Linked DNA regions of Homo sapiens. The protein of the gene in region 6 purifies or fractionates together with the protein of the main gene of each other region. This does not show direct contact. Each region holds a gene or a part of one and is shown on either strand. Other genes may lie near its edges. The genes, in order: ESYT1, SLC39A10, NSF, CIBAR1, CPNE8, RHOQ and PPA1.

The links.
Region 1: the proteins of RHOQ (region 6) and ESYT1 purify together in Homo sapiens (affinity purification with mass spectrometry, with the first as the bait; one study listed by BioGRID). This does not show direct contact.
Region 2: the proteins of RHOQ (region 6) and SLC39A10 purify together in Homo sapiens (affinity purification with mass spectrometry, with the first as the bait; one study listed by BioGRID). This does not show direct contact.
Region 3: the proteins of RHOQ (region 6) and NSF purify together in Homo sapiens (affinity purification with mass spectrometry, with the first as the bait; one large-scale study listed by BioGRID). This does not show direct contact.
Region 4: the proteins of RHOQ (region 6) and CIBAR1 purify together in Homo sapiens (affinity purification with mass spectrometry, with the first as the bait; one large-scale study listed by BioGRID). This does not show direct contact.
Region 5: the proteins of RHOQ (region 6) and CPNE8 purify together in Homo sapiens (affinity purification with mass spectrometry, with the first as the bait; one study listed by BioGRID). This does not show direct contact.
Region 7: the proteins of RHOQ (region 6) and PPA1 purify together in Homo sapiens (affinity purification with mass spectrometry, with the first as the bait; one large-scale study listed by BioGRID). This does not show direct contact.

Annotation. Positions count from the first base shown.
Region 1 is NC_000012.12:56,131,267-56,134,766, reverse strand, and holds part of ESYT1 (extended synaptotagmin-1), read right to left. Parts: coding exon 3,451-3,500; intron 3,291-3,450; coding exon 3,201-3,290; intron 3,019-3,200; coding exon 2,963-3,018; intron 2,559-2,962; coding exon 2,435-2,558; intron 2,347-2,434; coding exon 2,170-2,346; intron 2,049-2,169; coding exon 1,966-2,048; intron 1,351-1,965; coding exon 1,302-1,350; intron 1,180-1,301; coding exon 1,093-1,179; intron 987-1,092; coding exon 894-986; intron 688-893; coding exon of another isoform or gene 658-687; coding exon 586-657; intron 426-585; coding exon 339-425; intron 1-338. UniProt on the Homo sapiens protein: Binds calcium (via the C2 domains) and translocates to sites of contact between the endoplasmic reticulum and the cell membrane in response to increased cytosolic calcium levels.
Region 2 is NC_000002.12:195,663,726-195,667,225, forward strand, and holds part of SLC39A10 (zinc transporter ZIP10 precursor), read left to right. Parts: intron 1-3,500. UniProt on the Homo sapiens protein: Zinc-influx transporter. When associated with SLC39A6, the heterodimer formed by SLC39A10 and SLC39A6 mediates cellular zinc uptake to trigger cells to undergo epithelial-to-mesenchymal transition (EMT).
Region 3 is NC_000017.11:46,691,669-46,695,168, forward strand, and holds part of NSF (vesicle-fusing ATPase), read left to right. Parts: intron 1-1,234; coding exon 1,235-1,400; intron 1,401-2,178; coding exon 2,179-2,253; intron 2,254-2,806; coding exon 2,807-2,994; intron 2,995-3,500.
Region 4 is NC_000008.11:93,699,182-93,703,349, reverse strand, and holds the start of CIBAR1 (CBY1-interacting BAR domain-containing protein 1), read right to left. Parts: upstream 2,801-4,168; 5' UTR 2,703-2,800; coding exon 2,677-2,702; exon of another isoform or gene 2,602-2,676; coding exon of another isoform or gene 2,293-2,601; intron 2,127-2,292; coding exon 1,892-2,126; intron 1-1,891. UniProt on the Homo sapiens protein: Plays a critical role in regulating mitochondrial ultrastructure and function by maintaining the integrity of mitochondrial morphology, particularly the organization of cristae.
Region 5 is NC_000012.12:38,671,592-38,675,091, reverse strand, and holds part of CPNE8 (copine-8), read left to right. Parts: intron 1-3,500. UniProt on the Homo sapiens protein: Probable calcium-dependent phospholipid-binding protein that may play a role in calcium-mediated intracellular processes.
Region 6 is NC_000002.12:46,545,490-46,548,989, forward strand, and holds part of RHOQ (rho-related GTP-binding protein RhoQ), read left to right. Parts: intron 1-3,500. UniProt on the Homo sapiens protein: Plasma membrane-associated small GTPase which cycles between an active GTP-bound and an inactive GDP-bound state. In active state binds to a variety of effector proteins to regulate cellular responses. Involved in epithelial cell polarization processes.
Region 7 is NC_000010.11:70,212,930-70,216,429, reverse strand, and holds part of PPA1 (inorganic pyrophosphatase), read left to right. Parts: intron 1-1,843; coding exon 1,844-1,930; intron 1,931-2,840; coding exon 2,841-2,967; intron 2,968-3,500.

The DNA.
Region 1 (3,500 bases), on a different chromosome or scaffold from region 6:
ATTAGCCGGGCATGGTGGTGCCTGCCTGTAATCCCAGCTACTCGGGAGGCTGAGGCAGGAGAATTGCTTGAACCCAGGTGGTGGAGGTTTCGGTAAGCCGAGATCGCACCACTGCACCCCAGCCTGGGCAACAGAGCGAGACTCCATCTCAAAAAAAAAAAAAAATATTATTCTGGAGCGACAGTTGGGGAACAATGGAGAGATATTCAGGGAGGTGGGGAGTCTAGGTAGATGGATTAAAAATAGGAATCAAGGGAAAAGAAGGAGAGGAGAAATGGTACAGATCTGGGAAGTCAGAATAGGGTATTCGGGAGGGGATGAAGAGGTGATTATCTCACTTGCACATCGAGCTCCTGGCTTTGAGGGTCTTGTAGGAAGAACCGGAACGCTTCCTCCCACACTGGGCAGTTGGTACTGTAGACAGCCTGGAGATGTAGAGGAGGGATTAAGGGTGTATACCACAGCACCATTCCTGTTTCTGCAGAAAACCCCTGCATGTAACAGGCATTCTAAAGGGGAAACCATCCCAAGAATAGGCCTCTCCCTGTCCTACCTGGCCACCCACAATGATGTCCTGGCCCTCACCTTGCTCTCCTGAGTCACATCCTGAATTGACAGTTGTACCATAGGGTTGGGTTCCTTGTTCCCCTTCTTCAGCTGTGGTGGGTACAATTCAGAGGTCACCATCTTGGGGGATTCGGTTTTGGTTTTGGTGAAGGAAGGTGGGATCGCATCAGAATCCTTTCCCTGAGATGGATCTGATCCCCTCCCTGGGACCCTTATGTTACATGCTGATACTTCTGGAGCAAAGCAGGCAGGGACATTTGCATCCTCAGCAAGGCAGGGTTGGGGAATGTTACATCCAGGGCTCCTGTTCACCCAGCCAAACTCACAGGAAGATCCTGGGCCCGATCCAGGTAGACAACTAAGATGGCAGCTGACGGGGGATCTGGTCGAGAGGAGACTCCCCAATTCCACTGTAGAACCTGGGGAGGGGTGGTAGTAGTCAGATCTTGGTCCCCGTTCCAAGTCCCCTACACTTCCAGCTACCTATTTCTCCCCTGCCAGCTTCCTATTTCCCATGTGGCTTACCTGCTCCAGTTTCTCTGCATCTGACAAAAGTGACAGCCATTCTAGCCTCAAGTGAACTTGGCCTTGCCCACCTTGTAGAGGGAACCACTAGAAGAAATTGAGATGTAGTAGAGATCAGATACCTGCTCAACTACTTCCCTACCAATGTAGCAACTACTATCTACCCAAAGGGTGAGATCAGCCCCCACCTTCCTCTTCTCCCAACTTACATCATCCAGAACGCTAGCCTGTAACACCTTCCCTACATCCAGCTTCATTCTGAGGGTTGGCGGGGGAGAGGGTAGTGAAAGGAAGAAAAGGGTAGTGTTGTAATTAGCAGCATGTCAGTGGCCCTCCACTCACCCACCCAGAAATGACTGGCAGATCTCAGACTCCCTTATTCCTCTCAGAAGATATTCACCTGCATGCGTGAGTATGTGCATGGTAGGGGCTGGGGGTGGGGAGGTTAGGAAGGAAAATGATACATGATTCCCAGGCCCAGAAAGTGAGTATAATTACCTCCAGAACCTCGGTAGCATGGGCTTTATTTTTTTTATTTTTATTTTTTTTCTTTAGAGACAGAGTCTCGCTCTGTCGCCCAGGCTGGAGTGCAGTGGCGCGATCTCGGCTCACTGCAAACTCCTCCTCCCGGGTTCACCCACCATTCTCCTGCCTCAGCCTCCCGAGTAGCTGGGAGTACAGGCGCCCGCCACCACACCCGGCTAATTTTTGTATTTTTAGTAGAGATGGGGTTTCACCGTGTTAGCCAGGATGGTCTCAATCTCCTGACCTCGTGATCCGCCCGCCTCAGCCTCCCAAAGTGCTGGGATTACAGGCATGAGCCACCGTGCCTGGCCAGCATGGGCTTTAGAATCCTAACAGGCAGAGTCTCACCTGCCCAGAAAGTCATCTTTATCTGGATCCTTGTCGAACACCTCCACTTCAATCTCCTGCCCTGGGACCTCGTGTACCATCACCTGGGGAACACAGAAGGCTGAGTGTCTCATGGGGCTGCAGCTGTGAGGATCATCCAATCAGCATCTTCTCTCACAACCTCCTGGGGCTTCCCCATTTCACAGAGCTGCTCAACTCTCCCACCTCATAAGTCTCTCCCCACTGTGGGTTGAGTTCTTCATCAATGACACGACTGCAGAATGTCTGGGTACCCAAACGCACAAGTGCATATGGGTCTGACTTGCCCTCAATCAGGCCCTTCACATATTTGTCCTTGGAACTCAGCCCTCGAGCAGCCAGCAGGTGAATTCGAATAATGCCCTGGAGGAAGGAATCAGATGGTGAGAAACTAAGGACCCAGCAAGGGGTTCCTGAGAGAAGGATCTATCTAGTGGGGGAAAGGCCATACCCTGGGCAGAGGGGAACGCAACTGAGCCACATCTTGAAGGTCAGGCACAAGGGGCACCAGTAATCGGTTGGGCAACACGAGGAAGGCAGCAATGGAGTCCATGATCATGGTGTCAGAGAGTGAGCTGAATGGGGGAGTAGAAAGGAGTGGGTATGGCCTCAACTTCCAATTTTCTCCTAACCCCAACTATGTTTCCCACACCCAAGAGAGACCTAAAGCTGTAAGAAAGTCCTTTTGTGAAAATCCTTTGTGCTACTCTTCTACCCTAATTCCCCACCTACTGCTCTCTCCCTTCTTCACTGCCATCCCCATTGCCTTTTGCAGTCTTCAGCCCTCTGCATTCCCTTCCTGCTCCCCCAACCCAAAGAAAAATCACAGTATCAAACTTTGCAGGGGTATTTGTCTTTGCTCCCCAAATGAAGTTGAGGCTCCTAGAGGACACAAGCAGCATCTTTGACTGCTCTGTGTCCCTTAAACCCCCAACCCAGCGCTGGAACACTCAGCAGGTGCTCAGTAAGTCCTTGATACCTAAGTCCTGGGATATCCAGCAGGTTGGTCATCCCTGTCCAGTTGATGTCTAGGGTCTGGAGGGAAAGAGCAGGGGTCAGGACAGATCCTATGGGGTGTGGTCATACCCATCAAACAGTTGCCAGAACCCCTCGGCCTTCTTGTCAGTTCCCTTCTCATTCCCCTTCACTGGCTGCCCTCATCCTCCCAGTCCTCTGTTTCTCCTGCTTCCCCATACCCCTTCATTGTTTTCCCTTACCGGGCGTCGGATGAAGAACATTGACACAGCCCCCACGAAGGGAAGGTCCCCAATGAGTGGCTCCAGTATCACCCGCAAAACGCCATGTAGCTGAGGCAAGAAGAGAAAATCAAAGCCTTTCCCCAGAAAAGTCCCTCTTCTGTCCTCCCAGACTTTCTCAGCCTTGGTCTTTCCAACCTCACACTTCCCCATATCCCATGAAACGCAGGACAAACATTCCCTATTATGTGGCCCCTGACATCTGGCCTACCTGCATGCCCTTGACTCCTGCTTTGCAAAAATATTTCTTCACTTCCACAT
Region 2 (3,500 bases), about 150 Mb from region 6:
GTAAATTGTATATTAAAACAGAAAAAAGATTTGGGTTTTAAATTAGGATAGTCTATAGTTTTTTTCTTTTTTTTTTTTTCAACTTTTATTTTAGATTCAGGGGGTACATGTACAGGTTTGTTACCTGGGTTATATTGTGTGATGCTGAAGTTTGGGGCATGAATGATCCTGTCATCCAGGTACTGAGCATGGTGCCCAACAACTAGTTTTTCAGCCCTTTCCCTCCTCCTTCTCTCCCGTTTTTTCCAAATAAAGTGAATAATTGAATGTATATAACATCTTATGAAAGCACATACAGTGTACATATAGAATTTATTTTCAAGCAAATAATCATGCCAGTTAAAAATTGAAAATCAGAAAGGTATGCTAAAGTTAAATCACTGAAATATATTAAGAAAAAAGTTCTTTAAATTCACTGTAAATATAATTTCATGGAATATATAATTTCTAAAACAAATTCTTAAATCTTTTTCTGTGAAGATTTTTGCGTAAACACAAGTACTTAAGGTTTTTTAGTTAACTGATATGTGTGTGAAAGTGTTGGATGTTAGTGCAACTGACATTTTTCTTTTTCCTAAAAAAGAAATAGATGTTAGGGGTTTTAGTTTTTTAGGAGTTATTTTTAATTATAGCTTTTCTTTTAAAAAAAAATAAGAAAATATACACTAAAATATGGGGAGAAAAAACTTTTAAAATTTAGCAGCAGTCATAGAAGAAATTGCAGAAACCTTAATAAGTTTCATTGCATGTACATGAAAACATCTATACATGAAAGGGAAAACATGATCAAAATAAAAAGGAACAGAACTGCAGGGTTTTTGCAGAAAATGTGACTGAATCATGTTATGTAAAAGCTCATATATGTTGGAAAAAATATTGAGACATCAGGAATAACTTTAAAAATATGAATTAAAAATAAAGTAAGACCTTTTATTTATTTAAAAATTTATAATAATGTGAATGAGAGTGCTATGATCATACTGCTGGTGGCAGTATAACCAAGCTTAATTTCTCTAGAAATCAATTTGGAAAGTAAGTATATGACAAAACCTGAAAAGTGTTAAAGTTTTTATAGTTTTTCCCCTCATCTTGGAATTCATTCGAAGCAAGTAATCAAAGATAATAGCACAAATTGGAATTAAAATGTTTGCATATTGTGTTTCAGACTGCAAACAGGCTGGGTGCAGTGGCTCACACCTGTAATCCCAGCACTTTGGGAAGCCGGGGTGGGAGGATTACTTAAGGCCAAGAGTTTGAGACCATCCTGGGCAACATAGGGAAACCACCATCTCGACAAAAAATTTAGCCCAGTGTGAGGTCGGGCACGGTGGCTCACGCCTGTAATCCCAGCGCTTTGGGAGGCTGAGGGGGGCTGGATCACCTGAGGTCAGGAGTTTGAGACTAGCCTGGCCAACATGGCGTCTCTATTAAAAATACAAAAATTAGCTGGGTGTGGTAGCAGGTGCCTGTAATCCCAGCTACTTGGGATGCTGAGGCAGGAGAATTGCTTGAACCTGGGAGATGGAGGTTGCAGCGAGCAGAGATTGCGCCATTGCACTCCAGCCTGGGTGACAGAGCGAGACTCTGTCAAAAAAATGAATAAATAAAATTAGCTGGGTGTGGTGCTGCGCACCTGTAGTCCCAGCTATGTAGGAGGATGGCTTCAGCCCAGGAATTTGAGACTTCAGTGAGCTATCATTGCACCACTGCACTACAGCCTGGGCAACAGTGGAAACCTGCCTCAAAAAATAAATACTTGAAAAACCCACAGACAAATGCTTGTGAAAATCTTAAAGCTAGAATTCATTTTCTTCCACATGTGACATTATTTTATTGGTTTGTCAACTAAAATTTAATTTATAATTGCCAACTTTTAGGTTTTTTTCAAAGTTATACATGAATATAGTTTAAAGAATCAAATAGTTGTGTGAAGTTTCTTGGGGGGAAAAATCAGTCCCCTGTCTGTTCCTTTCATATTCTGCCTAGAGAGATAAGGAACCCCTTAATTCCTTTAGTTGATTATTTTGCTATTCATTACCATGTCTCCAGATAACATGTTCATTACTTGCAGCTGATTTTCAGTTCTAACCATTATCTATTTAATGAAGAATGATTTTAGTGCTCTTTCACTTCTGTGCATACCTTCCTATTTCCTGTACTCCAGTTTCTCCGTACAATTTTCATTGTAATTTTGGTTTAGAACAGTAATTGGGGTTACATTTTTATGCTATAAATATTATTTTATACAATGTGCCATTGTAATAAATGACTACTTTCCTGCACAACTTTGTTTTTTCTGGTAATAATTAGCTTGATTTTTTTGTCCTTTTATTTAATATGCATATATTAAAAGACCCCAGCTCTGTGTTTCTGAATGTAGCTATATAAGAAAGGGGAATGTGGTCAAGACTCTATGTTCAAGAATTTTATGTAGTTTTAAAAAATTAATTGGACAGAAAGCTCCCATGTTGGGGAATAAGTAGCCTCTGTGTTGTCTGAAACATAAAAAAAGTCAATGTTATACAAAGATTGACTTGGAGATTTTTTGATTATTTTTTTCCCATGACGTCATGGAAAAGAAGGATCATTTTAGCTGGCAGTTTTTACAATGGCAAGCTGGTATAAAATCAAGGATGTATAACAGTGACAAGACACTGAAAAAGGGAAGGGTGAAAATGCATGGAATAATAAAGATTTGAGGTAGTGCAGCAGTAGCTATTTTTAGAATAAAGACAGCTGTCAGTGATGAGTGGAAAGAGAACAATAAGCTGTTGCCAGGCTGGAGTATAGTGGTACGATCACAGCTCACTGCAGCCTTGACCTCCCGGGCTCAAGTAATCCTCCCACCTGAGCCTCCCAGGTAGCTGGGACTACAGGCATGGGCTACCACACCTGGCTAATTTTTAAAACATTTTCTGTAGAGATGGGGTTTGGCCATGTTGCTCAGGATGCTCTCAAATTCCTGGGCTCAAGCCATATGCCTGCTTTGGTCTCCCAAAGTGCTGGGATTACAGGTGTGAGCCACTGCATCTGGCTGGTTAGCACTGTAAGTCTGCTTCATAATGCATGTAACTAAAATCATAAACATTTTAGTAGCTTCAAAAGACATCCCAACGACTGCATTTACTAATCTCAGATGTTTGTATTCACAAATAGCAGAACAGAGGTAGCAATATTACAGGTAGCTTTCTCCAATATGGTTCCAGGTTCCCTGTAATGAAAGGCTGAAAAGCAGAAATGCAGGTAATTGTTTTGACATTTGATGAGAAAATGTAGGTTTGTACATGAATGTATAGAATACAATAAAGATAGATATGATGTGTTGTTGATTGATTTGATACTTTAAATCAAGGTATAAATGTTTATATTCTCTCTCAAGTTAGTGAAACAGGAGAACTGAGTTAATGCCCAAGCTTAATTAGCATGCACTTAACTTTTTACATGAATGAATCTCAGTGGAAAGATTGGGTTGCCTGAACTGTGCTTTTATTTATTTATTG
Region 3 (3,500 bases), on a different chromosome or scaffold from region 6:
AGTCTCATTATGCTCATTTAATTTTTATTATCCGTATGTTGTCATATTTAGGTTATGTTCATTTTTTACCAGTTTTGTTAATCCCTAGTATTTTTTGTTTTTGAGACGGAGTCTCACTCTGTCGCCCAGGCTGGAGTGCAGTGGTGCAGTCTCGGCTCACTGCAACCTCTGCCTCCTGGGTTCAGGTGATTTTCCTGCCTCAGCCTCCAGAGTAGCTGGGATTACAGGCACCTGCCACCACACCCAGCTAATTTTTGTATTTTTAGTAGAGATAGGGTTTCACCATGTTGGCCAGGCTGGTCTCGAACTCCTGACCTAAGTTGATCCATCCTCCTCTGCCTCCCAAAGTGCTGGGATTACAGGCAGGAGCCACCGCACCCGGCCGTGTTTTTTGTTTATAAAAGAAAAAATTTCCAGAGTGCACTTTACTCCCTGATAGGAGACTAAATTACTTAAATATAAATTTTAGAAGGTACGTGTTAAATTAACCTAATGAATTAGTAGCATTCAGAAGTGTTTGTATCTGTTAAAGATTCAAAATATACAAACTAATTTCTTTTAATGGTGATTCTATTTCTAGTAAACTAAGGCAGAAATCATTATGCAGAAGAAACAGCACCCTGTTAACCATGTTCTTTTTATAAACCGTCTCTGTTCTCACTTTATTGTTAGGAAGGCGTAATCTGTTTTCATGTAATATAAGTACATGTGAGTCATGTTGAGTTTCTTCACTCATTTGTCCAATTCCCAGTCAACCTGTAGGTGGAGTTAACCTTTAGTTACATAATATAACGAAACAAACATTAAACCTACTGCTTCTGGGACAGTCTTCTCACCAAAACTCAGGGAAAATGGGAGGGTGTTGCCACTGACTGACTTAATGAAAGTATCTGACAAATGTAAGGTCTTTCAAATAGTGAGATAAGAAATGTATATAAATTATTTGATCGACTACTTACTTTCTATCTATACACACACACTATCAGTATATAATGTGTATTTTCATTTTATAGCTATTAAATATGAGGTTCTAGAATGAGTTTTCAGTTTGCAGAATTCTGAGAATCTAGTTCCAACACCTTTGAGAGGACAACAACCACAATTGCACTTGCCATATTTATTAGTCAAAATGAAGTGAAGTCAATCTGTTGAAAGCTTTGTTTTGTTTTTCTGATTAGTTTGTTTAATAAGACATTCAAATTATGATCTTTAATATAATTTCTTCCCCTAATAGCTTGGTGCTAACAGTGGTTTGCACATCATCATCTTTGATGAAATTGATGCCATCTGCAAGCAGAGAGGGAGCATGGCTGGTAGCACGGGAGTTCATGACACTGTTGTCAACCAGTTGCTGTCCAAAATTGATGGCGTGGAGCAGCTAAACAACATCCTAGTCATTGGTATGTTTACTTTTTAAAAAAGTACTATTCATTCAAAAACGTTAGCCATAAGTTCTGAATTAAGATGTGTGTAGGTTGTGATTAAACTGTTTTGCCAGTGTTTCCAAATTAGAATCCAGTGATATTGAAGAATCTATTGTAATGCCTAGGCTTAATAGGAAAAATAAAAGATGGATTTCAGTCACTTGTAGGTTTAAGCTTATAGCTCACCCACAGGTGAAAAAGATGTAGGTTGAAGCTTATAGCTCACCCAAAAATGAAAAATACACATGAAACAATGGAATGCAGTGGTTTTCAAACTGGGTCTTGCAGGCCTTCGGGGGTCCTCAGAGGTGCTTTCAGGGTCAGTGAGGGCCAGGGAGTGCGTTTCAGATCCTACATCACTATTATAACTTCCTCTTTTAGCTGTTTTATGTACTGAGGTGCTTCTGAAGATGACTTCTGGGGGAAAAAAAAAAAAAACACCCTGCTGTTTTATGAAGTCTGAAAACCACTGGCCTGTAAAAAAGAGAAGGAACTTTGGAGTCAGAGAGATCGTGTCACATTGCCCCTCTGTCACTTTGACAGATTATTTACCCTTTGAATCTTAAATTTTCTTTTTAAATACTGGAAGTTTTCATAACATTTATATTCCATTGGCTTATACAGTAGTGAAATAGTAAAGCAAAGTCTCCTTAGCTTGTTAGGGAAATTACTATTCTTACATATACTAAAAGGACATTTGATTTTATTTTTGAACTCTGATCATTTGTTGTTTTGTTTTAACATCTGTGTTCAGGAATGACCAATAGACCAGATCTGATAGATGAGGCTCTTCTTAGACCTGGAAGACTGGAAGTTAAAATGGAGATAGGTAAGGAGATCTGTCACTGATTGGGTGTGTGGTGGGGGGAGTGGAGGCATTTAGAGTTCATTAACAGGAACAATGTCATATGGTGTAGTATTTTTTAGAAAAGGTTTATATCATGAGAAGTAGATGTTTACATGCTTGAGTACCTATAAGGAAAACATTAGGATCATAATAATCTCCTCTAGGCTGGGCGCAGTGGCTCACACCTGTAATCCCAGCACTTTGGGAGGCTGAGGCAGGTGGATCACTTGAGGCCAGTTGTTCGAGACCAGCCTGGCCAAGATGGTGAAACCCCTTCTCTACTAAAAATACAAAAAACTTAGCCGAGTGTGGTGGTGTGCACCTGTAATTCCAGCTACTCGGAAGGCTGAGATAGGAGAATCGCCTGAATCCAGGAGGCAGAGGTTGCAGTGAGCTGAGATCGTACCACTGCACTCCAGCCTGGGAAACAGAGCGAGACTCTGTCTCAAAATAATAGTAATAATAATAATGATAATCTCCTCTGATGGTGCTTTCGAGACTAGGAAAATGCCTATTTTATTTTTAATTTCATCAGGCTTGCCAGATGAGAAAGGCCGACTACAGATTCTTCACATCCACACAGCAAGAATGAGAGGGCATCAGTTACTCTCTGCTGATGTAGACATTAAAGAACTGGCCGTGGAGACCAAGAATTTCAGTGGTGCTGAATTGGAGGGTCTGGTGCGAGCAGCCCAGTCCACTGCTATGAATAGACACATAAAGGTCAGGAAAATCAGCTAAACAGATTATAAACATTATGCCAGTATTCTTTCTCTTTCCTTTCAAGCATATCAAGGGGTAGGGAAATGCTGACTTTTGGTGGAGAAGAGATGGTAAAAGGAATAAGAATTAATTGTCAACTGCTAAATCTTCAGAGTAGCAGGAAGGAAGATAATGTTTGCATCTGCCCTGTAGTAACCACTGACTCATCTACCTTAGGTCATCACCATCTGACACAGACACGTAAAGTGAAAATTTTGAAGAAGTGTTTTTAAATCTTTGTATTGTATTAAAAGTTGTAATATGGCCAGGCATGGTGGCTCATGCCTGTAATCCCAGCACTTTGGGAGGCTGAGGCGGGCGGATCACAAGGTCAGGAGATCGAGACCATCCTGGCTAACACGGTGAAACCCCGTCTCCACTAAAAATACAAAAAATTAGCCGGGCATGGTGGCGGGCACCTGTAGTCCCGGCTACTCGGGAGGCTGAGGCAAGAGAATGGTGTGAAC
Region 4 (4,168 bases), on a different chromosome or scaffold from region 6:
AGTTCAAATTTTAATACAGCTAACATTTTCAGTGTGTTCAGCACAGTAATGGATACTTTGCATATATTATCTCTGAACTGTAATAGCTCAACTTTTCAGAAAAGAAAATCAAAGCTGAAAGACAGAGCATCTTGGAAACATTTAAAGCAACATAACCTTGAAAAGCAAAAAAGCTTAGAGATCACTGTATTTGCTGCATTTTTTTTTCTGAGAAGCCATTTGTGAATTATCGAAGCCTACAGAACAAGATAAATGGTCTGAGTTGCTGAGCTGTCAAACTGTATGTTTCATCTCTGTTTCATTTAGAATTAAATAGTTTTTCTTAAACGTTACAGGTTTTTAAATCACATTTTGAGTAATTACTTCTTTTACAAGTAGTACTAGTGGAAGGCACTGAAGAGAGATTTTTTTTAAGGCAAGTATTTAAATATAGCATAAGAAAAATAACTCTTGGACATTAAAATTTTTTTTCTCAAGATAGGTGATGTATTCAATTGCTTAAAATGAACATTTTTTAATAGCAGGAAAAGGGCTTTTTAATGATACATATTTATATAATTGACAAATACACTTAATTTCATATTGATTTTTCTTTAGTTTCTGTAAATGAAATGTATATGAATGTTTCATTTTAAAACATGTTAGGAAAATAAAAATCGACTTCTCATCAAGTATTCAAATATTAGGAATCCTAAAATCATGGATATTCAGGACAGTTTGCTTTACACCATTTCTTATAATCCATACTGATTATTCAGTTTAAGGATTATCTAAGTCTTTTTTCTGTTCTCCTTTTTGTTGCCTACCTTTTTGTCATTGTTCATTAGGACCTCCACCATTTGGTAAGCAAGGGAAATAAAAGGAGAACAAATGCAAATCAATTCACTTTGCTATTTGATAAATAGCACAAAGGTTTTCTACAAAGGGGCATTGAAATTATTGGCTAAAATAAGATTTTAGGATTACCTGTGAATATAAATTATCTTTGAAACATTAAGTCCCCAGTTATCATATATAATTGAGAGTTACTTGTTTATTACAGAAGTTTCATGACAAGAACTCCACATTTTTCCAAAAGTACCTCCAAATATGATTACTCTTCAAATTTGTATGGATAGCAATGATGAGTTCAATTTTTTTTATACTCATTCTGTTTTTTGAAAATTGAAATTCCCGTTTTAGGTTCTGAAAAGTATAAAAAAGCAACGCAGTTCTAACTGGGCAACTTCTGATAAGTTAACCTATGCCGTGAAACTGAAAATAAATACAAGTAAAAGTGCTTATTAAGTATTTAAAGGAAAAATATGGGCTTTTAGAAAGAAAACAATCACAAGGACACTTCTCCTGCTACCCAGAGCAAAAAGTCCACACGGTGTCTCAGTATTGGTTTGCTTCCATGATACAATTCATAGCATTTTGTTGTTGTTAGTAAACCATTGGTCAATTTTCCAAACCATGGATGCAGCAATGATGTCTTACCCATTTATTAATAATTTATCCATCCACATTACCATTCCCAACATTTCCATCTCCAGTCATTCTTTAAAACGTACTTATGTGCCACACAAGACATTAAGTTATGCTTATTTTCTTCCCCCTGGGTACTATTCCCACTACCCCCAGTAAACAGCCACCCCTTGGCCAAAAGTTGGCAAATAAAGTGGGGAAATTCAAGACCTCAAGATGCCCTAAAGGTTAGCTTGAAAAGGGTAAAATAAAACACAGAACGCTTCTCTTTAATAGACTCACACAGTCTTATGAAAATGTACGTTTTATCAAGTTTGCATCCACCTCTGCAGTTAGGTAGATTACAAGTGAAAGTTTCCACGGTTCCTTCATCCACTACTTCATGGCTCATTCATAACAATGACACTGTGATCTCACTCCATACCTCTGCTTGTCGATAATCCTGAAGTTTGGCAAACTCATCTGCAAAGTTCATCAGGCCCAGCTTTAAATGCGGGGTCTCTGTAGCAGCATACGCGTTAATTTCATTCACCAGGAGGTCTGCTTTGTCTCTCAGCCTGGCAGTTTTCCGCACATAGGCAGCGAAGATTTGGCACAGTTCTCCAAAATGCTTCTCCACATTTGAGACAGCTGTTTGCAGTTGTTTCGTTTGAGCGTTCCTAGGGAAAAGGTGACACAAAAGGCAAAACATTCTCGTTAGAGATGAGAAGGCTTCACGTTAATTTAACATGCAAACATTCCCCGGGCATTCTGCAGCTTTGAAGGCGTAAACCCATCAACGACCCAGCGTCTCCCGGCGCGGACTGCTCTCCATGGGGTCCTGACCTCACTATCCGGACTGTGTAGGCACAGGAAAAGGCCCAGGCCGGGTGGGCCTGGCCTTAACTGGGGAGGTGGCTGCTCCGGCTGCTCCGCGCAGCGCGGCCTGGGCGCCCGGCTGCCTCCTAGGCTTCCGCACTGCCCGCGGCAGTGTGGGGACCCGAGACCCGGTGGCGTGGGTGGGTGGCAGCCGGCCGGGCCCCGGGCTCCTCTTCGCCGCCGGCGGTGGCTGCAGCCCAAGGAATTAGGCCCCAGGTCACAGCGGGGACCGTGCAGCCTCCCACTCAGGGTCGGAATTCGGCGCAGAGGCCCCATGGACAGAGGCTTCCACTTCCCTCACCCCAGCCCTCCAGTGTGGGCGGCCCTGGGCAGCTGGGCTCGGGCTGTTACCGGTTTTCCAGGGTGCGCCTCATCATGCTGCCTCGCGCACGGCCGGGGACCTTGCGGGGGCCCAAGGACGGGGATTCCAAGGCGCCTGGGCGCGCGCTGGGGCGCAAGCAGCCGCCGGGAGCCTGAAAGCCCGCCCCTCGCGCCGCCGCGGCAGGCCGGGCGTTTCTATGGAAACGGGGCGCGCGCCCCCGCGGTCAATGCCCGAGGCAGCCTGAGCGCGGCTGGGGCTCGGAAAGCGCCAAGCAGGCAGGGACCGAGAGGGGTGATGGCGCGCCCACCCCTGCAGAGCCGCCTGCGCGGTTGTCCCGCGCGTCCCTGCCGGCGAAGGCTGTGAGAAGCACCGCGGGGCTACGGCGCCTCCATCCTCTCTAACAGCCGCGCTTACCAGACAGCCAGCCTCCAGCGCTGCTAGGCTACTCCGAGCAGGGGAGAAAAGACGCCGGTCCGCCGGGGACCAGGAGGGAGACGTGAAACCAGAGGCCCGGGGGCCCCCTCTCCGCCTGTGCGACTTGTAGTCTCGTACCAGACGCGTCCGCTTCACTGCTGAATCTGAAAACGTGGGCTCTTGAGAGCTGCCCTTGGAAGGAGCTGTGCTTTCTGCCTCATCTTTAACTTTTCGTTTATTCAGCAAATATGTATCAAGTTCCGACTTCGTGGAAGAGATTGTGTTAGACACTGGGAGTAATAGAAACATAATTAAGAAGCAGGGGTCCCGGACCTGAAGGGCCTGAGCGTCGGGTAAGGAGGCAACGCTTACACCGAACCTGTGCTGAGATAAATAACGAACAGTTCTGGCTCTTAGAGTTGGCCTGGGGGAACAAAAATTCAAAAAGAATAAAACCCCAAACAAACAGGAGGCTCTCCTTTGTCCTTTGAACGCCTCTGTCCCTTTGACCCTCCTGGCCTTGCGTGTGCTGCTTTTCCCAGTAAATACTGCAAGGACTCTATTCAGACTTTGTTTATTTATATATGTATTTTAGATGGAGTCTCGCTCTGTTGCCCAGGCTGGAGTGTAGTGGCACAATCTCGGCTCACTGCAACCTCCGCCTCCTGGGTTCAAGCGATTCTCCTGCCTCAGGCTCTCAAATAGCTGGGATTACAGGCGTGCACCACTATGCTGGCCTGATTTTTTGTATTTTTAGTAGAGACGGGGTTTCGCCATGTTGGCCAGGCTGGTCTTGAACTCTTGGCCTCAAGTGATCCGCCCCCCTTCAGCCTCCCAAAGTGCTGGGATTCCAGGCGTGAGCCACCGGGCCCGGCCTCAATTCAGACTTTATCTGCTTCAAGAAACCTCTCTGGGATCCTCCGTCACTTCACTTTTTCAGGCAGCGTTAGGGCCTTGTCCTAACGCTTTGGGACGGGGTCCTAATACTGTCTGAAGGAGCGAAGTGTTGGAATGCTCAAACAGTACACTTCGTTGATTTTGTACTGCCTCCTGTACCCTAGACTTTGAACCCTTTGAGACAGATTAAATGTGATTTTGGTCTTGTAT
Region 5 (3,500 bases), on a different chromosome or scaffold from region 6:
GTTCAAATGCCCATTAAGAGACAAATGTTTGTGTAACGAGTGATCTGGGTAAATGTTCGTAGTCATCTGATAAATTCCTTTAAGAGAACTTTGTGCTAGACAGCAAGTACACAGCCACATAATATTCACCTGGTTCAGGTGTTTTATATTAACAATGGCAGCTTATTTAGCTTGAGGCTTTGGAAATGAGAATGGTTTTAGAATGTTTGACACAATCTTTGTAAGTTACTGGTTAACTTAAGCACATAGGTGGCTAACTAGATTGTAATTATCACTGAGGTGATTCTTATTTAACCACCAGTCCCTCCTGCATGAGAATAATAAAGAGCTGTCAGTCTCAGGTAAAGCACCACAGGCAAGTTGTATTGCTGACCCTGGAATCCCTAAATTCTAATCTTGGCTGGTCATCCTTTCTAGCATGATAATCTTACAGTTTCAAAAGCAAGTCATTTATCCCTCACCAACACTGCTTCTCCTGTTATTTTCTCTATCTCTATTAGCATCTACTTGAGTTGTACTTCGGGCATGAATTTCAGATACCTCTCTGGAGACAGGAAGGCTAAGACATCTTTCCTCTCCATGCTTTGCACACTTGATAATCTGCATTAACTAGTGATAGACTGTGATTCACAAACTTCACCAATTGGTAGGCTAAAATAACTCATGCTTTCTTCTTTGGCTACTATTTGCTTTTGACTTTGAAGGATGTATCTTTCATGGGTATATCTCAGGTCTCTCAGACTCCTATGGAAGTCCACCTTTAGGCATATGACCTCAGAGATGGTAAACCTCAATCAGTTCTTTTTCTTTGAGAGCTCCCACACCTGATTCATAAATGCAAAGCCACTGACCCTTCCTGGCATATATTTCTGGTAACACATTTCTATACAGAGCAGCAGGCACAGCCGTTTTGCTACTGCCCTTATCCAATAGCCACAGCTATTTATTTTCTTCGTTTCTTTAGTTCCCAGCAAATTTGTTAGGGTTTTAAGGTATGATAATTCATCATTTTCTCTCTGTGAGGTCCTGAACTAACTGGAAAAAAATATATGCAAGAATCATTCGGATCACTCTATCAGCTTTATTACTAGCAATGCAGAATTTGAGAACTTGGGTTAACCTGTGGACAATCACATTCCCATTACTTTTTCCCTCCAAAATTAAATTATCTCATTCTTATCTCCAGGACTTCTCCTTATAGAGGCGGAGTTTTGCCTATTAAGCATGCCACCGAGAGAAATTATACTTATCCTCAGGATAGTGCTGCTCCAAATGAGAGTGATTCAAGCTCAGTTATTTCTCCTAATCTTAGTAATCCTATTCCTCTTTCCATGCAGAAAGGTAAATGAAGATTGTAGATGAAAAGGGAAGTTGCCTTCCCAGAAGTTAGAGTGAAATTTTCCTCTGGAAACATGGGAACAGGGAATTAGGCTCCTGTAACACCTGGTTTCTGTTTTCACCATGATGGAAGTTCTAATGGGATAGAAAAACTTCTGGGCCCAGTACTAGAAAAGTAGATTATTCTGCTAGGCGACAACAGGTGCTTCTCTAAAATATTTTTCCTTTTTTCCTTTCAAAACACATCTCTTCATGGCTTAAAAAAAATTTCTATATTAAACTCATGTTTAATATAGAAAAATCTCTGACTAGTCAAATTGTTGCTCTCCTATCAGAGGAGCCTCTCATGACACTTCCAAATCTACTCTAGAGTAAGTGTATATATCACACATATGAACTGACTGACCTAAATCCAACTGGCAAATTGTATTAGTCTGTTTTCACACTGCTATAAAGAAATGAGACTGGGTAATTTATAAAGGAAAGAGGTCTAATTGACTCACAGTTCCACATGGCTGGGAAGGCCTCAGAAAACTTAGAATCATGGTGGAAGGGGAAACAGTCATATCCTACATGGTGGCAGGAGAGAGAGAGAGCATGTGAGAGGGCAGGAAAGAGGGCCATTTATAAAACCATAAGATCTTGTGAGAATTCACTCACTATCACGAGAACAGCATGGGGGAACCACCCCCATAATCCAGTCACTTCCCTCCCTCTACATGTGGGGATTACAGGTCCCTCCCTCAACACATGGGAATTACAATTTTAGATGAGATTTGGGTGGGGACACAGAGCCAAACCATATCACAGATTTCATCAGCTAACCACATAAAGCCAACATCTACACATTTTTTAACCTGAAAGACATTGTTTCCATGGGCAAGAAATACAATATGTTGCCATCTGTCCTTTGAAGGTACAGGAAATAAGAATAGACTATTAGATTATTTAAATTTAACTCTGTATTTTGATAAGACCATTTTAAAACTATCTACATAAATTTCCCCAGTGACTCTTTTTCAGTACTAAAAAAGAACCTTTATTATAAAGAAAGATTTCTCAAAGCAAGATTTCTTTATACTTAAAAGGCAGCCAAAAAGTCAAATTAAAGCAGCATCTGGCTATCTGCTTTGATTCGAGTTAGACGAAGGGGATAAATAAAAGGGTTTCTAACTTCATTGTGTCTCCCATGGCTAGAAAGAAATGCAAATCTGTCTCATACACCTTTCCAGGAAGAGGTAATGGTGGGAGACTGGGGTTCATAATCTCCACCTGCTTGAGGACCAGATGGTCTGCACACCTGAAGAGTAGACCTGACCCCTCCACCACTTACACACCATCTCTCTTCTTGCTCTCAAAAGCACAGCCTCCACTTCTTGCTGTCTACAGTGTTTTAAACCAGACATGCTGAAAAGTGGGAGATATTTTATAGGACTTCATGCTAATACAGTATTGCCTAAATGACTGTCCTTTTCTTCATTAATTGGAATGAAACACAAAGACCAATGGGGATTGTAGAAGACTGTGGAAAGTGAGACCTAGATTATCATCTAATTCTTGTTTCCCATTTTAGCATGTGTATAGGGTAATTGTTGTAAATTATTAACATATTAGAGAATAATGGAGAAGTGTTTGTGACCACTGAGTGTTACCATTGGTGCATATTTATGTCCCAAAGTAATGTGAAAATTGTAAAAGCAAATTTAGATATAAAAAGTATTATTTACTGAAAGTATTTGAACATAATGAGTTATATTTACATATCCAAGAAGTAAGGGAGATTAAAAAATGTCTTCTGCATTGGGATAATTATCTTATTATTGGTAATATACAGATTTTACATAATTATGATATATATTGTACACCTTGACAAATTATTGAACAGTAGCTCTCTGTTAATTATGTATACTAGCAGCGTTTCAGCCCAAGCATTGACTCATGAACATGTGTAGAAAGGTAAAATTGAAAACAATGTTTTCAACCCAAATGCATTATCTAAGCACTGAAGAAAAGAGTAAAGAAGTGAGGATTGTATGCTGACTGAGCAGTATTGGGGCCAGGGAGATGGGTGATGAGGCCAAAATTATAATTGTAAGCGGCTCTCTGGAGTCTGGTGAATGTCATGTGTATACAAAATGAATTATCAGTAATAGAATTATACT
Region 6 (3,500 bases):
TATGGGGCCAGAGGCAGACACATGCAAATATTATTTTATTTAGTCCATAAAACAACCCCATGAGATAGGTGGTATTTCATCTTTGCGGTGAGGAAACAGGCTCAGAGAAGCTAGGTTGCTTGCCTGAGGTCACACAGCTACTGAGGGGTGTTGCTAGGATTGGGACAGGGGTCTGAATCTGCTCCAGTTTGAAGTAGTTATACACACAGGACACCATGGGAATGCTGAGATGCCACGGGGTTGATTGGATTGTTTGTGCATCCATAGTTGTGGTACCTGTAATCTTCACAGCCATTCTCTGAGTGGGTGTTGGATGGCACCTCTACAGAGGAGAGAACTTAGATCCAGAGTCACTTGAAGTTGACCCCACTTACAAAACCAGGGCTTTCCATATATGGCCGTAATTACTCTTTTTAGTGGAGGATCATAAGATATAGACCAAGCAGGATGAACATATTAGTAAGGCTCAAATACTACTGTTTTCACCCAATGCTGGACACCATTGGTGGGGCCTAGATGTGTGTTAGGCCCCATTGGTGTTTTTCCCAGTGTCTAGACTTTTGTTTTTGCATCAAAGCTAGTAATATTTCATCTCCCAGCATTTGAGGGTTTATTACTAATAAGCAACTTAGCAATGATGAGACCAAATGGCAAGTGCCTGCTGTGTACCTGGTACTATGTCCAGGTACTTTTGCACCTGGGGAGTGCAAAGGAATGAATTTAAAATGGGGATCTACCACAGCTGATGTCAGCAAAGGGAGAAATGTCTGTCTCGGGTCTCTGTTCATGTGTTACATAGGAGATCTCTACATTGCACTTGGTCATTAAGACCTCAGGCTTCTAGGAATCCATATCAGATTTGTCTTACAATAATAACAATGATAAATAAACATGTAAATAAAAAGTAAATAAAAAACATTAAGGGTTTATATATATATATATGTATCCGTATACACATATACATATATATATATATATATATATGTGTATATATATATATATATATATATATATATATATATGTATATACATATATATATATACACAAATCCTTAAGCCTAGTGGGCAGCAGAGAAAGGTCCATGGGCTTTGGAACAAAACAGGCCTGGGCTCAGATCTCCACCTTAGCTAGTCATGTGATTCTAGCTAAATTATTTACCTTTGTGATCTAGTAAAAACGTGAATAATTAGAATCTGCATTACAAGGTCATAGGCTGGCTTAAACTCTTTAACATATTTAAAAGCAGCTGATACTTTGTGCATAGTGGGTGAGTGACAAATAGTACAGGAAATTATTATATTCCACTATGGGGAGTTTTGTGGGGAGAAAGGTTCACAGAGTGGAAGAGAACAGTATATTGTGCCTGGAGTTGATAGAAATTCCACTAGAATGCCAGATCCTAGAACCTTTTCAACCAAGGTGTGCAACAGCTTTGCGCATTGTAATTCCCATAGTCCCTATTGTGGGATCCATGGTTCCAAGCCCAGTGCTCCCTGCCGTAAATGCCCTGTTGTATCAGATGGTTTTCTGTCTTAAGCAGAGCCCGTATCCCCATTGATAGAAGAGAAATAGCTTAGAGTTCCATGCAGAATTTGACAGACAAGTAGGGTATGTAGGCTTCAGTTGGTTCTACTTTCAGAGAGTTAAGATGGAATGAGGCAGCTCATGGCACTACAGGTCAGTTGCCTTCTCTCCAAAATGTTCACTCATGCATGTGGGCACTCATTGTATTTGAATAACAGCAACAGTGCCTCCCTCAGTTTGGAACCTCTAGTCCACTTGCTCACTCATGGTCCCTGCCTTAACCCCAGTCAAGTTCAAAGCCATAGGCATCATTTGTCCGACTGACATATTAGGGCATCTACCAGTCAAAGGGTGATTGTTGTAGATGACCTTTGGCCTTCTAGAGCAGGCTGCTTTCCACTTGACCTCTGCTGCTATTAGCAGACAAAGAGAGAGAATGGGAGAGAGAGTGTATTGGACTTCAGTCCCCATCATGTGCACTGCCTGGGGACATCCCAGCACACTCAGAGCACCACTGCCAAAGGGAACACTTCCCCTCTGTTGGCCAAGCCCATGGGTGGTCCAGGAGCAGCTGTCACATTTTGACTGCCAAGCATTTTGGAGTGGAAGTTGACCGAGGCATCTTCCTTCTCACTAGGGGCCTTGCGTGTGTTTTGGGGGTGAGGGGTTGGCTTCCTGCCTGGGCCTCTGTGGAGCTTCTCCTTTCTTGCCCAGCCTTCAGGACTTCAGTGTAGGCTCTGCAGCAACCCCATTGTCTGCTCAAGGAGGGACTGGAGAGATGGGATTTTCCCTCCTGCTACTGCACTGTTTGGAGCGATGGGAAGTGGAAAGAGCTCTCCCTCTCTGTCCAGACAGGCCAGTGGGGAGCTGCCTGGCAAGCTGCTCTCTAGCTGTGGGCTCTAGGCTGATCTCTTAATCCTTGGCAGGAAGGCAGAACTTGATACCCTGGAGAGGGAAGGACTGAAGCCCAGTTTATTCAGGTCCCAGAATATCCACACTCAGGAGGATGTGTGTTGGGGGTGAATTTGGGATCCCTAGAGTTCCAGATTTAGCCACTGTCTCAGTGTGTGGAAGTCAATTTGTGTGCTTTGGGATGTATTGTTTCTATGTCTGTTAACTTAAACACACAAGTTCAGGGAAGCGTCCATGACAGCTATAAATATCTTTTACTCTGGTGTCCCTTGGTGTTGCTTTTTCAATGACAAGTGAGATTTGTTTTACACTTGATATAACCCAGCAGCTGTGGCTGCCCTGCATGCCCTCTGGGTGCCCACAAGGCACTTCCCCTACAGAAGGGAATCTCCACCGGAGGCAGGCTTGGCATGCCCCACCTTCTGCATTTTAGCAGAAGGGCCTGGCATGATGAGAAAAGGGAAGGAGAAAGGGCCATGGGATCACCACTCACCAGGCTCCTCCCACCTCCAGGCAAGTCATCCTCACAACACCCTTCAAGGTAGACTTCTCCCAGATGAGGAAATTGGGAACAAGTGGGCTTATGGGAACCAGACAGAGATGTGATTAGGAAAAAGGTTTTCTACTTTGGAGAAGGCCTGCAGGGAACATTAGTAGGGTTTAGGAAATGCCACTCACAACATCAGACTCTGGGTCCTTGTAGCCCCGTGTTCCATCCTTGCTCAGCCCGGTGAGCAGAGCCTGGGAGGAGCCCCAGGGTTCCTTCCAGGCATCAGCTGCAACAGGTGAGATGCTGGCACTGAGCATCCTGGTTTCCCTTAGTAACCTACTGTAGATTTGTCATGTGTGCATTTTGCTAACCTTTTTAGAAGCTATTTATATCTCTAGCCCACACCGCATCACACGGGAATGCTGGTTTCCTCCTCTGCGTTGGGAAGGTGGATAGCCTTTGTTGACTCCAAAGCCTTTGCTGTGTTCGCTCCAAAGTCTGAATGCCCTGTGTTCCCCTCCTTGGGACTCTGATGTGGGTTTGGGTTATGCCAGCTTAGACTGTGGGCTGGCA
Region 7 (3,500 bases), on a different chromosome or scaffold from region 6:
CTGCATCTTCTGCCTCTCAGGTTCGAGTGATTCTCTTGTCTCAGCCTCTTGTGTAGCTGGGATTACAGGCGCCTACCACCACGCCCAGCTAATTTTTTGTATTTTTATTAGAGACAGGGTTTCACTGTATTGGCCAGGCTGGTCTCAAACTCCTGACCTTGTGATCTGCCTGCCTCGGCCTTGCAAAGTGCTGGGATTACAGGCATGAGCCACCACGCCCGGCCTCAATTGATTTATTAATAGTATTTAGCCTTGATATATCATCCTTGTAGGAGAACATTGCTGAAATACTTACTCTTCTGTGGGTTGGATTTTGCTTTCTTAATGTTGGATTTGTTAGATGTGGTCTTCCTTTATCCCCCTTCTCATTTATCTTTTTGCCTTTACTCCAGCTGAGTAGACAAACAAATCTGAGTAACGTGTTCTAGTTGGAGGAAAAAAGAACCAATGCAACAGCTACATTTTAAACCTAACATCCTGGCTAGCACAGGCTTTCAGTTCTTTTGTGAGATGTTCTGCAAGGACTCTGGCTTACAATTTAGGAAGGAAAGAAAACCAGTCATGTAAAGCTCCAGAAAATTCTGATTAAACTTTTCAGTCCGGGCTCCTGGTCAGTGATGATACTTTTAACATCAGAACATAACCTTTTGGCTGGGTGTGGTGGCTCATGCCTGTAATCCCAGCACTTTGGGAGGGCAAGGTGGGAGGATCACCTGAGGTCAGGAGTTCGAGACCAGTCTGGCCAACATGGTGAAACCCCATCTCTACTAAAAATACAAAAATTAGCTAGGCATGGTGGCATACACCTGTAATCCCAGCAACTCAGGAGGCTGAGACAGGAGAATTGCTTGAACATGGGAGGCAGAGGTTGCAGTGAGCCAAGATTGCGCCACTGCACTCCATCCAGTCTGGGCGACAGAGCAAGACTCTGTCGCAAAAAAAGAAAAAAAGAAAAAAAAGGAAGAAGAAAAACAACCTTTCCATTTTACTATTATTGCCTATCTACTTCTGTTTTGGGAATTTATTATAAAGAAAATCTAAGACCAGGTACAGTGGCTTATGCTTATAATCCCATACTTTGGGAGGCCAAGGTGGGAGGATCACTTGAGCCCAGGAGTTTGAGACCAGCCTGGGCAACATAGTGAGACCCTGTCTCTACAAAAAAGAAAAAGAAAAAAACCACACATTTTTGTTTGTTTTGTTTTCTTTTTTTGTTTGTTTTGTTTTGTTTTTTTGAGATTGAGCCTTGCTCTGTTGCCCAGGCTGGAGTGCAGTGGCATGATCTAGGCTCACTGCAACCTCTGCTTCCTGGGTTCAAGCGATTCTCCTGCCTCAGCCTCCCAAGTAGCTGGGATTACAGGCATGCACCACCACGCCTGGCTCATTTTTGTATTTTTAGTAGATACAGTGTTTCACCATGTTGGCTAGGCTGGTCTCAAACTCCTGACCTCAGGTGATCCACTCTCCTCAGCCTCCCAAAGTGCTGGAATTACAGGCATGAGCCATCATACCCAGCCTAAAACCACACATCTTTAAAGTAAACGTTTGGGTCTATATTTGTGTTTCCCTATTGTCTCAGTTATTGAGTAGTTGGCTTTTGCTTGTTTTAAATAGGATCATTATCTGTTTTAAAGCTTAAATTTAGTTTAGCATTAGATGTGTAGTAGGAGCTACAGCATTTAATTGAAACTCTTGTGTGTAGTTAAGATTCTTAAATGCGAATAAAGAACTAAAACAATGAGAAAAAAGTAGCTGAAGAGTCATAGGATGTTATCTGTTATTCTCAACATGATCCATTTTGTCAGTATGTATAGGAATGATATACACTGTCTTATATTTTTAGACTTGGGAAGACCCAGGGCACAATGATAAACATACTGGCTGTTGTGGTGACAATGACCCAATTGATGTGTGTGAAATTGGAAGCAAGGTAATGAAATGTGACATTTTTTTCTTTAGTGTTGAGATATTAATGAAGTATACCAAATTTCATACTTTAAAAAATACTGTGAATAAAATGCATGAATATTAGTGAAATAATGATGTCTCTTTGGTATTAAAGGCTTCTTGCATTTTAAGCATTTGTATATTATAATTTTTACATTTAAATCTAGTCTGGAAAAAAATGTGTCTATGTATGTATGATTGAACATATATCTAGAAGAACTGGACATGTTCTGCATTGCTTTAGAAGATGGATAATTAGTCAATAGGTGAAAGGTACCAGGAGGGAAATTCCCTCTCAAAACATGGCAAATCTTGCCTAACAATTTAGAATGATCAGTAAATTGACCCGAACCAAATAACCTCATGAGTTGGAGATCCATGGTAGTAACTCCTCCATCAAGTAGGGTTGTTCTAAGATTCTGATTATAGTTATTTCTTTATGTCTCTCTCAGGTGCAGAGAAATAGTAAACAACTAAAAACAAAGTTATCATTTTGTTTTTTAAGTCATAAAGTTTTTGAGTCATCGTATGACTTGCTTAACTCATGACTTTTATAAAATAAAAGGTAAAGCATATTAAGATACGTATTTGAGACTATGGAGGACTTATTCTTCAGTATAATCAATGACAGTGCAAAAAACATTGATTACCCTGAGCTATGTACTGGTTTCCCTATGACCTAGAAGAAAATAGGACCTATAAGTCCTGTTTTCAACTTTAATAGGACTGATGAAACATTTACTCATTTAGGTTTTTAAAATTTGCTTAAAGGAACAATCTTCAGGTAAATTCTCAAGAACTTGGCCTCTTTCTTATTTCCTGTTAGCCAAGTAAAACTGTCTTCTAGAGTGTGGTTCTGTAATGTTGTCCTGACTTTGGCTATTGACTCTCAGGTATGTGCAAGAGGTGAAATAATTGGCGTGAAAGTTCTAGGCATATTGGCTATGATTGACGAAGGGGAAACCGACTGGAAAGTCATTGCCATTAATGTGGATGATCCTGATGCAGCCAATTATAATGGTAAGAAAATTTGAAAAGTCTGAAGTCTTTCTAATTAATTCATAAGCACCACCATACTTAACCTATAATGACAGAATTGTAAGCCCTTACCTTCAAACTGTTAAAGGATGGAGGAACAAAGCACTGGACAAGCATTATTTCTATGACTGCACTTGTAATTAACTAAGTAAACTTTCTCCTTCATTCCAGGAAAGAAAAAATCTGGTAGGTTCTTACTGTTTTTTTGGTCCTTTCCTTCCCCACATACCAGCACTCAGTTGGTATGTTTATTTATTTTAAAACATTTAATTGAGATATTCACATATCAAAGAGTCACCATTGTAAAATGTACAATTCAGTGGTTTTTAGTATATTCACTAAGTTGTACAACCATCACCACTCTCTAATTGCAGAACATTTCATCAGCCCAGAGGAAATCCTGTATCCATGGGCAATCACTCCCTGTCCCCCTTCCCTCAGTCCCTGATGACTGCAGATCTACTTTGTGCCTATGGATTTGCCTATGCTGTTATTTCATGTAAATGGCATCATAT